Homo sapiens: one gene and its partner. The protein of the gene in region 2 purifies or fractionates together with the protein of the main gene of each other region. This does not show direct contact. Each region holds a gene or a part of one and is shown on either strand. Other genes may lie near its edges.

Region 1 (4,124 bases), on a different chromosome or scaffold from region 2:
TTAGTAGAGATGGGGTTTCACCATCCTGGTCAGGCTGGTCTTGAACTCCTGACCTCAGGTGATCCACCCGCCTCAGCTTCCCAAAGCGCTGGGATTACAGGTGTGAGCCACCGTGCCTGGCCGATATTTTTATTTTTAAATAATTTACAAAGTTGATCTTCAGAAAAATTTCACCAACATATTCAATAAGAGCAGGGGAGAGTGCATGTGTCCCCAGTCCTTCAACAAATCTGTTAAAAATTTTCATGTAATCTAATCTATCAGCATTTGTCTCTTTGTTGTACAGTCACACTGCGTATCGATTGGTCAACGACAACGGACAGCATAGAATACGATAGGCTATAGTATGTAGCCTAGGAGTGTAGTAGGCTATACCATATAGATTTGTATAACTACACTCTACGATGTTCGCACCACCACGAAATTGCCTGATGCATTTCTCAGAACATATCCCCGTTATTAAGTGGCACGTGACTATAAAGGCCTTCCACACCAAAAGCTTATGTGGAGATAAACGGAGTCTACCCATAAGAGAACAAACAAGTGCTACTTATTCACAGCTTTTTTATAGCAAGGAAGTCAAGCCACCATCATTTGAGTCTGGCAGAGATTCAAAGACAGGCAGGGGAGTGGGAAAGCTTTATAGTGGAAAACAAAAACACAAAGACTTCAGCTACGCTCTGATTGGATGTTGTTGACGTGAGGAAGCTAGAGGCAGGCCAACTAGAGGCAAGCATCCTATGTGATTGAATATGGGTTCATATTTGGGTTTTTCTTGTTTGTCATCAGGTCAAAAAAATTAAAAAGGCCAGAAAGGCTAGCAAATTGATTAAAGTCCTGAACATTTCTGCAGATGCTATACTTTGGCTTTTTGAGCTGCTTGCAGCAAAGGTTGTGGGTCACAGTTCTATTTTCGTATGTGGTCTGGTCATTGTATATTCAGTTTCTCACTTAAGATAAATTAATCGTTGTTTTATTTTGCTTCAAATATAACTTTATTTTTTATTCATTTGAAAATTTATGTTTGTACATGTCAGGAAAAAGGGACAATTTCATTTATTTTGGAAAATTTTTCTTAAGTTTTTTCTAAAGGGCAATATTCTATTCTTTATACAGTACTTAAGTTCACATTCATACGATTTTATCGGGTGGGTCTACGTTATTTCAGTGGAATTTAAGAGCAACATTATCAAGACTCCTCTTCTGGACCGCCCAACTCATTAAAAAAAAAACTGTGATTTTCATTAAGATTCTTTCTTTGATTAATTTCTTAACAAGAAAAAAAGGACAAAAGGGCCCAGGGAGGTAAGAGGGTACCTGCTGGAGAGGTGGTGGGTGGCTGGAAGCGGCTGGCTAGGAGGCGGGGCGTGGGGCGGTGGAACTCCTGGGCTGCGGCATTCACGTGATCTGCACGGGCGCAGATGTAGGCACCGGTCCGAGTGCCTGCCCTCTGTCCCCGCGGCTGGGTCTCGTCTGCTCCGGTTCCTGGGCTCCTAATTCTTGGTCCAGCTTCTTCCAGGTCAGTGTGCGGGCCTTCCACGCTGCCAGCGGAACACTGGAATGGCGGAAGGGGAACGGGTACGGCAGGGGGAAAGGCTGGGGGTGGGGTCGGGTCGAGTCGAGGGAAGCTGGCCCGAGTGTGGACAGAGATGGCGGTGGGAAAACGGCTAGGGGTGGCTGAGGGGGAGCACGTAGGCAGTGGGCAGAGGGTGAGGAAGGCGAGCACCCCCAAGTATCCATGCTCGCTTTCCAGGCACATCCTCTTCTCTGCCCTCCGTCCATTTTGGAGCCGGAGATGGTGGGCTGGGGCCGCCCCAGTAGTGAGACAGTGGAAGTAAACCCCATCTGCCGTTCCCGTGCGTAGAGAAAAACGTTGACCGCGAGGCTGGGGAGGAGAGTTGCCTCTGAGGAAGAAGGGCACAGAGACCCAAAATTAGTTTGGAAAGCATCCTGATTTGGTGCCCGAGGCCTGGAAAGAAATGGCGGCTGGGGTGCGGCGGAGGTAGGGGAGGAAAACGTTGGATGAGAAGGGCCTGGACTCAGGAAAGGGAACCGCGTCCGTGTGAGCCCGCTGAGCGCGCAGACCCTGCCCCTGTCTCCTGTCTGTCTGCAGGTCTGCGCGTCTGTTGTTCCCAGCGCTCTGCGAAGCCTGAAAAGGAGGAGCAACCTGTCCAGAATCCCCGCAGGTCCGTGAAAGTACGGGGCTGCATGGACAGGGGCCCACAAGGGTTGAGAGTGTGGAGGGCCCGGCCAGGGCCGAATTGGGGCCTTTCCCATTCCCCCACCCACATGAACACACACCTTACCAGGCTGAACCAGTGCAGAGAAAGTGGCAGAGCCTGTCAGGCAATGGCTGGCTCACGTGTGTGGGAGGAGTGGCGGGCTACGTGGTGGGCAGAAGGCCCTCTTGGAGGCCTGGCCAGCTTAGGGGAACCCTCATCAGGGGTGAGATGCAAGTACTATCCAGACCTGCATTCCACCCCATGCACTCAGTCTCCCATGTCTCCTCTTTGTCTCCTCTTTCCTCCACCCCCATCCCCCAGGACAGGAAAAGGAGGGGAAATCTCGACATGGAAAAACTCTACAGTGAAAATGAAGGAATGGCTTCAAACCAAGGAAAGATGGAAAATGAAGAACAGCCACAAGACGAGAGAAAGCCAGAAGTAACTTGTACTCTGGAAGACAAGAAGTTAGAAAACGAGGGAAAGACAGAAAACAAGGGCAAAACAGGAGATGAGGAAATGTTAAAGGATAAAGGAAAGCCAGAGAGTGAGGGAGAGGCAAAAGAAGGAAAGTCAGAGAGGGAGGGAGAGTCAGAGATGGAGGGAGGATCAGAGAGAGAGGGAAAACCAGAGATAGAGGGAAAGCCAGAGAGTGAAGGAGAGCCAGGGAGTGAAACAAGGGCTGCAGGAAAGCGCCCAGCTGAGGATGATGTACCCAGGAAAGCCAAAAGAAAAACTAATAAGGGGCTGGCTCATTACCTCAAGGAGTATAAAGAGGCCATACATGATATGAATTTCAGCAATGAGGACATGATAAGAGAATTTGACAATATGGCTAAGGTGCAGGATGAGAAGAGAAAAAGCAAACAGAAATTGGGGGCGTTTTTGTGGATGCAAAGAAATTTACAGGACCCCTTCTACCCTAGAGGTCCAAGGGAATTCAGGGGTGGCTGCAGGGCCCCACGAAGGGACATTGAAGACATTCCTTATGTGTAGTGTCCCTGGCAGGCATTTACCAGGCCATGTGCTTTAACGTTACGGTAATACTTTACTTTAGGCATCCCTCCTGTTGCTAGCAGCCTTTTGACCTATCTGCAATGCAGTGTTCTCAGTAGGAAATGTTCATCTGTTACATGGAAAAAATGTTGATGGTGCATTGTAAAATTAAAAAACACAACTTGCAGAACCAAATATATGGCATCAGTACATTTTTGTAAAACTACAAAGATACTTACCTAGTAATATAGTATAGAAAACAATTCTGAAAGCTGTGTCCACTAAAAGATTAACAGTGGTTATCTCTGGGTGATTTTTTCTGTTCTTTTTTGTTCATCTGTCCATTTTTCTCCTAAAAACAGATTTCTTTAGTCATAAAAATAATAAAATATAAAGTATTGGAAAACAGTGAATATTTGAATTTCATTCATTTGAATAAGCATTCAAATGAACTGCCCAGTGAACTTATAAAGACAGTGGATATACTTAAAATTCTTGTGAGGACATAAAATGATAGGTAAAAGTTGCATTACCTCTGGGACTGGAAGCTGGAGGAGTCAACTCGATGGTTATTACAGAGCCATTGCTGTAAGGGACAGCCTTGACATCTGTGAAATGGGGATAAAATTAGCCTAGACATGTGGAGAAGATCAAATGAGGTATTGAGTGTGTGAGCTGTGTTAGGCTGGCTCCTACTCTCTCCCCTTGCACTAGCAGAACCAGTGCCCAGTCAGATACTTGGGAAGGGCTGAAGGAGGGTCTCACCTGTGCCCAGAAATAAGTCCAGACAGCTGAGAGATGGGTGCCACTCTTCCTGGGTAATGCCATACTTGAAAGGTAGTGTGCCCCTTCTCATGGATCCTGCACCCTCCTAAGGCCCCAGCTGCTGCTGGTGGGCTGAAGACC
Region 2 (3,500 bases):
CAAGGGGCAGAAGATTCTCCCTTTGGCTGGCTCAGCTAAAGACTAAAGTGAGAGAAGACAGAGGACTCTTGTTCCTCTGAGTTTTGCCGTAAATATCACTTGCTCCTTGCTGGATTGGAGGAAGGGAGGGGCAGAAGACAAGACTATTATCATGATTAGCCTATTTTCTCTTATACATTTATTCAACAAACTTTAAAGGGAACATTTTAAATGTTGTTGACAGTTACACCTTGGTTACTTTATTTTAAAAAGCATTGTATTCTTTGATTTTTTAATGCAAGGTCTCTCTATTGTAGCTGGCTCCTCTCATTCAAAAAAAACAACTGGCTCTAAAGCATCAGCTTCGCCATCCACTTCATCCACCTCATCTCGTCCCAAAGCTTCAAAGGAGACAGTTTCTAGCAAAGCAGGGACAGTGGGGACCACCAAGGGCAAGAGAAAAACTGACAAGCAGCCAATAACTTCTCACCTGTCCTCAGACACAACAACTTCTGGCACATCCGACCTGAAAGGAGAGCCTGCAGAGACCAGAGTGGAGAGTTTCAAACTCGAACAGACTGTCCCTGGAGCTGAGGAGCAGAACACAGGCAAATTCAAGTCCATGGTCCCTCCACCCCCTGTGGCTCCAGCACCTTCTCCTCTGGCCCCCCCTCTCCCTCTTGAGGATCAGTGCATTACTGCCTCAGACACTCCAGTTGTCCTCGTCAGCGTTGGAGCTGACCTGCCCGTCTCTGCCTTAGACCCAAGTCAGCTTCTTTGGGCTGAAGAGCCGACGAACAGAACCACTCTCTACTCAGGCACTGGCTTAAGTGTTAACAGAGAAAATGCAAAATGGTGAGTTGGGGAACAAACCCCCTATTTTATCTGAGAACTAAAGATCACTAATATATTCTGTTGGAAATGAAGCACCGGGTTTGCTTTCTTATATAATTTAATCTACTGAGTGTTAGGTAGGCATACATGTGATCCAACCATTGCTTTGTCAGAGCCCTGCCCTGGGAATGCCTAGGGCTGCTGGAGAAAATTACATTGGTAGAGCTGACAAATACCACTTGAGATCAATGTTTTCAAGTACACTTAGAACCTGCTTCAGCACTGCTCAGCAGTCCACAGTTCCCTTCTCTTTCCTTTCAGTGCTTATTTTAAATCTTTACTTTACCATTGTGCTTACCTACTCATGTCAGCAAGTTACTGAGCCTTCCCCTTCACCAAGAACATAAAGAAGATCAGAAGAGAACTCTCAAATTTGAACTCTTTTTTCTCCATCAGTAGAGTTGTCCCCTTTCTTGTTCCTTTAAATTCCCACCCAGCTTAAATGTTATGTCCTCTGTGAAGCCATTCAGTACTTCTAGACAGAATTGGTTATTGTGTCTACTATACTTAACCCTGTGGGACAGAATTAGCCAACATGTCTTACATAAGACACCTCTGTGTGCCCAGCAACCACTCCAGAGTCTGATATGCCATAGGCACACAAAGGATGCTCATTGAATTGTTGAAAGAAAATAAAAAAGGGATTTAAGATGGTTATAGATAAAGTCAGCCTACTTTAACATTGCGGAAGCAGCATTGAAGATAAGATGACCCTATTGCTAGATTTTGTAGAGTATAATGGAAGATAAAAGATAGTGCTCAAGTAGTCTTAGTTTCATTTAAGAAGGTACCTGAACAAAATGGGCCAAGGAACTCAATGTTACCTCACCCTCATCCAGTTGGTGGGTTAGTTGCTTTACCACCACCCAGTTGCCCAAGCTGGAAACCTGGGGTTCATCCAAGGGTCCTCATTCTCTTTCATTCTTTGCATTTCATCACTCACAAAGTCCTATAAATATTCTACTTACAGGTAAATAAAACATATTAGCCCTGTCTCACGAGTATGAAGGGATGGATGGCTGTCAGAGTATAGTAGACGCAATGATAAATTCTGTCTGGCAAAGGCTTAGAGCTCTTGCATCCTGGCTTTTTGCTCCTGAGTCTAAGAACAAAACCTGTATTCATTGTTCAAATCATGTAAAAGGTTCTCTTTCAAAACAATCTGTCATGTTAGACTTAAAAAAAATTATTACATTAATTAGGTTGGTTTTGGTCAAGAAACTAAAATATCAACTTTAATTCTTTAATTGCTAATGATAATAACCTTTATTTATTGAATACTCATTTAGTGTCAGGAACTAAGCACTGTACATGTATTATCATTTTATTTACACAAGTCTTCCCAAAAGTATCCCTGTTTTATAGATAAGAAAACTGGCACTGAGAGAGCTAAAATAGTTTGCACCAGACTGCCCAGTTGGTGGTGGTGAAGCCAGAATGCATACCCAATTCCATGCTCTGAATGAATAATTTCATGTTTTCCAAAGCAGTGGCTTCTACTTCTACTGCCATTTCTCTTCTGTTAGTTTCTTTGGGTTTTTTTAAGTCATTTTGAGCACCAATATTTGAAGGACAGCCAAGAAAAAATAAATGTCAAATTACAAATTAATTTATTTTCTTTGTTTGACATTTTAATAAAAGATATGGGAAAAGAAGATTTATTGAAATGAACGGTTATGGTGTCTTTCTTAGGACATTTTGTGCTGCTGTAATAGAGTACCTGAGACTGGGTAATTTATAATGATTAGAATATTGGCTTACAGTCCTAGGGGCTGAGAAGTCCAAGATCAAGGCAGCAGCATTTGGCAAGGATCTTCTTTCCATGTCATCACATGGTGGAAGGTGGAAGGGCAGAGAGCACAACAGAGTGAACCTACCCCTGTGAGCCCTTTTGAAAATGGCATTAATCTATTCACGAGGGCAGAGCCTTCATGACTTAAACACCTCCCACTAGGCCCTACCTCTCAACACTTTCACACTGAGGATGAAGGTTTTTGTTTTGTTTTGTTTTGTTTTTTGAGACAGAATCTTGCACTGTCACCCAGGCTGGAGTACAGTGGCATGATCTCGGCTCACCTCAACCTCTGCCTCCCAGGTTCAAGCAATTCTCCTGCCTCAGCCTCCCCAGTAACTGGAACTACGGGTGCCTGCCACCACGCCTGGCTAATTTTTGTATTTTTAGTAGAGATGGGGTTTCACCATATAGGCCAAGCTGGTCTTGAACTCTTGACCTTGTGATCCGCCTGCCTCAGCCTTCCAAAGTGCTGGGACTACAGGCGTGAGCCACCATACCCAGCTAGGATTAAATTTTAACCCATGAATTCTGAGGGACACATTCAAACCCTAGGAGCATTCTTAATACTTCCAGCACACAGCAAATGTCTTCATTTAACTATAGTGAGTATTTTCCAACATTGCCATCACTTCCAACCATTAGAACTGAACATTCATTCTTACAGCATATATTTTTTGATTGCCTTTTCTGTGCTGGGCAATGTACTAAGCACCAAGGATACAAAAGTGAGCAAGGCAATATAGTTAAGACTAGCTTTTACCAAAATATTGTCTGATGTGCCCAGGAAGTATAATGTTTAAGGTAACATCTGAATTTTGGGAACTAGATTGGG

Evidence for each region. Proteins that work in one complex are often made in the same cells at the same time.
Region 1: the proteins of PHACTR2 (region 2) and TCEAL4 fractionate together in Homo sapiens (co-fractionation; one large-scale study listed by BioGRID). This does not show direct contact.

The regions. Positions count from the first base shown.
Region 1 is NC_000023.11:103,584,106-103,588,229, forward strand, and holds TCEAL4 (transcription elongation factor A protein-like 4), read left to right. Parts: upstream 1-1,409; 5' UTR 1,410-1,519; coding exon of another isoform or gene 1,520-1,655; intron 1,656-1,753; exon of another isoform or gene 1,754-2,022; coding exon of another isoform or gene 2,023-2,196; intron 2,197-2,543; coding exon of another isoform or gene 2,544-2,570; coding exon 2,571-3,218; 3' UTR 3,219-3,624; downstream 3,625-4,124. UniProt on the Homo sapiens protein: May be involved in transcriptional regulation.
Region 2 is NC_000006.12:143,764,965-143,768,464, forward strand, and holds part of PHACTR2 (phosphatase and actin regulator 2), read left to right. Parts: intron 1-296; coding exon 297-834; intron 835-3,500.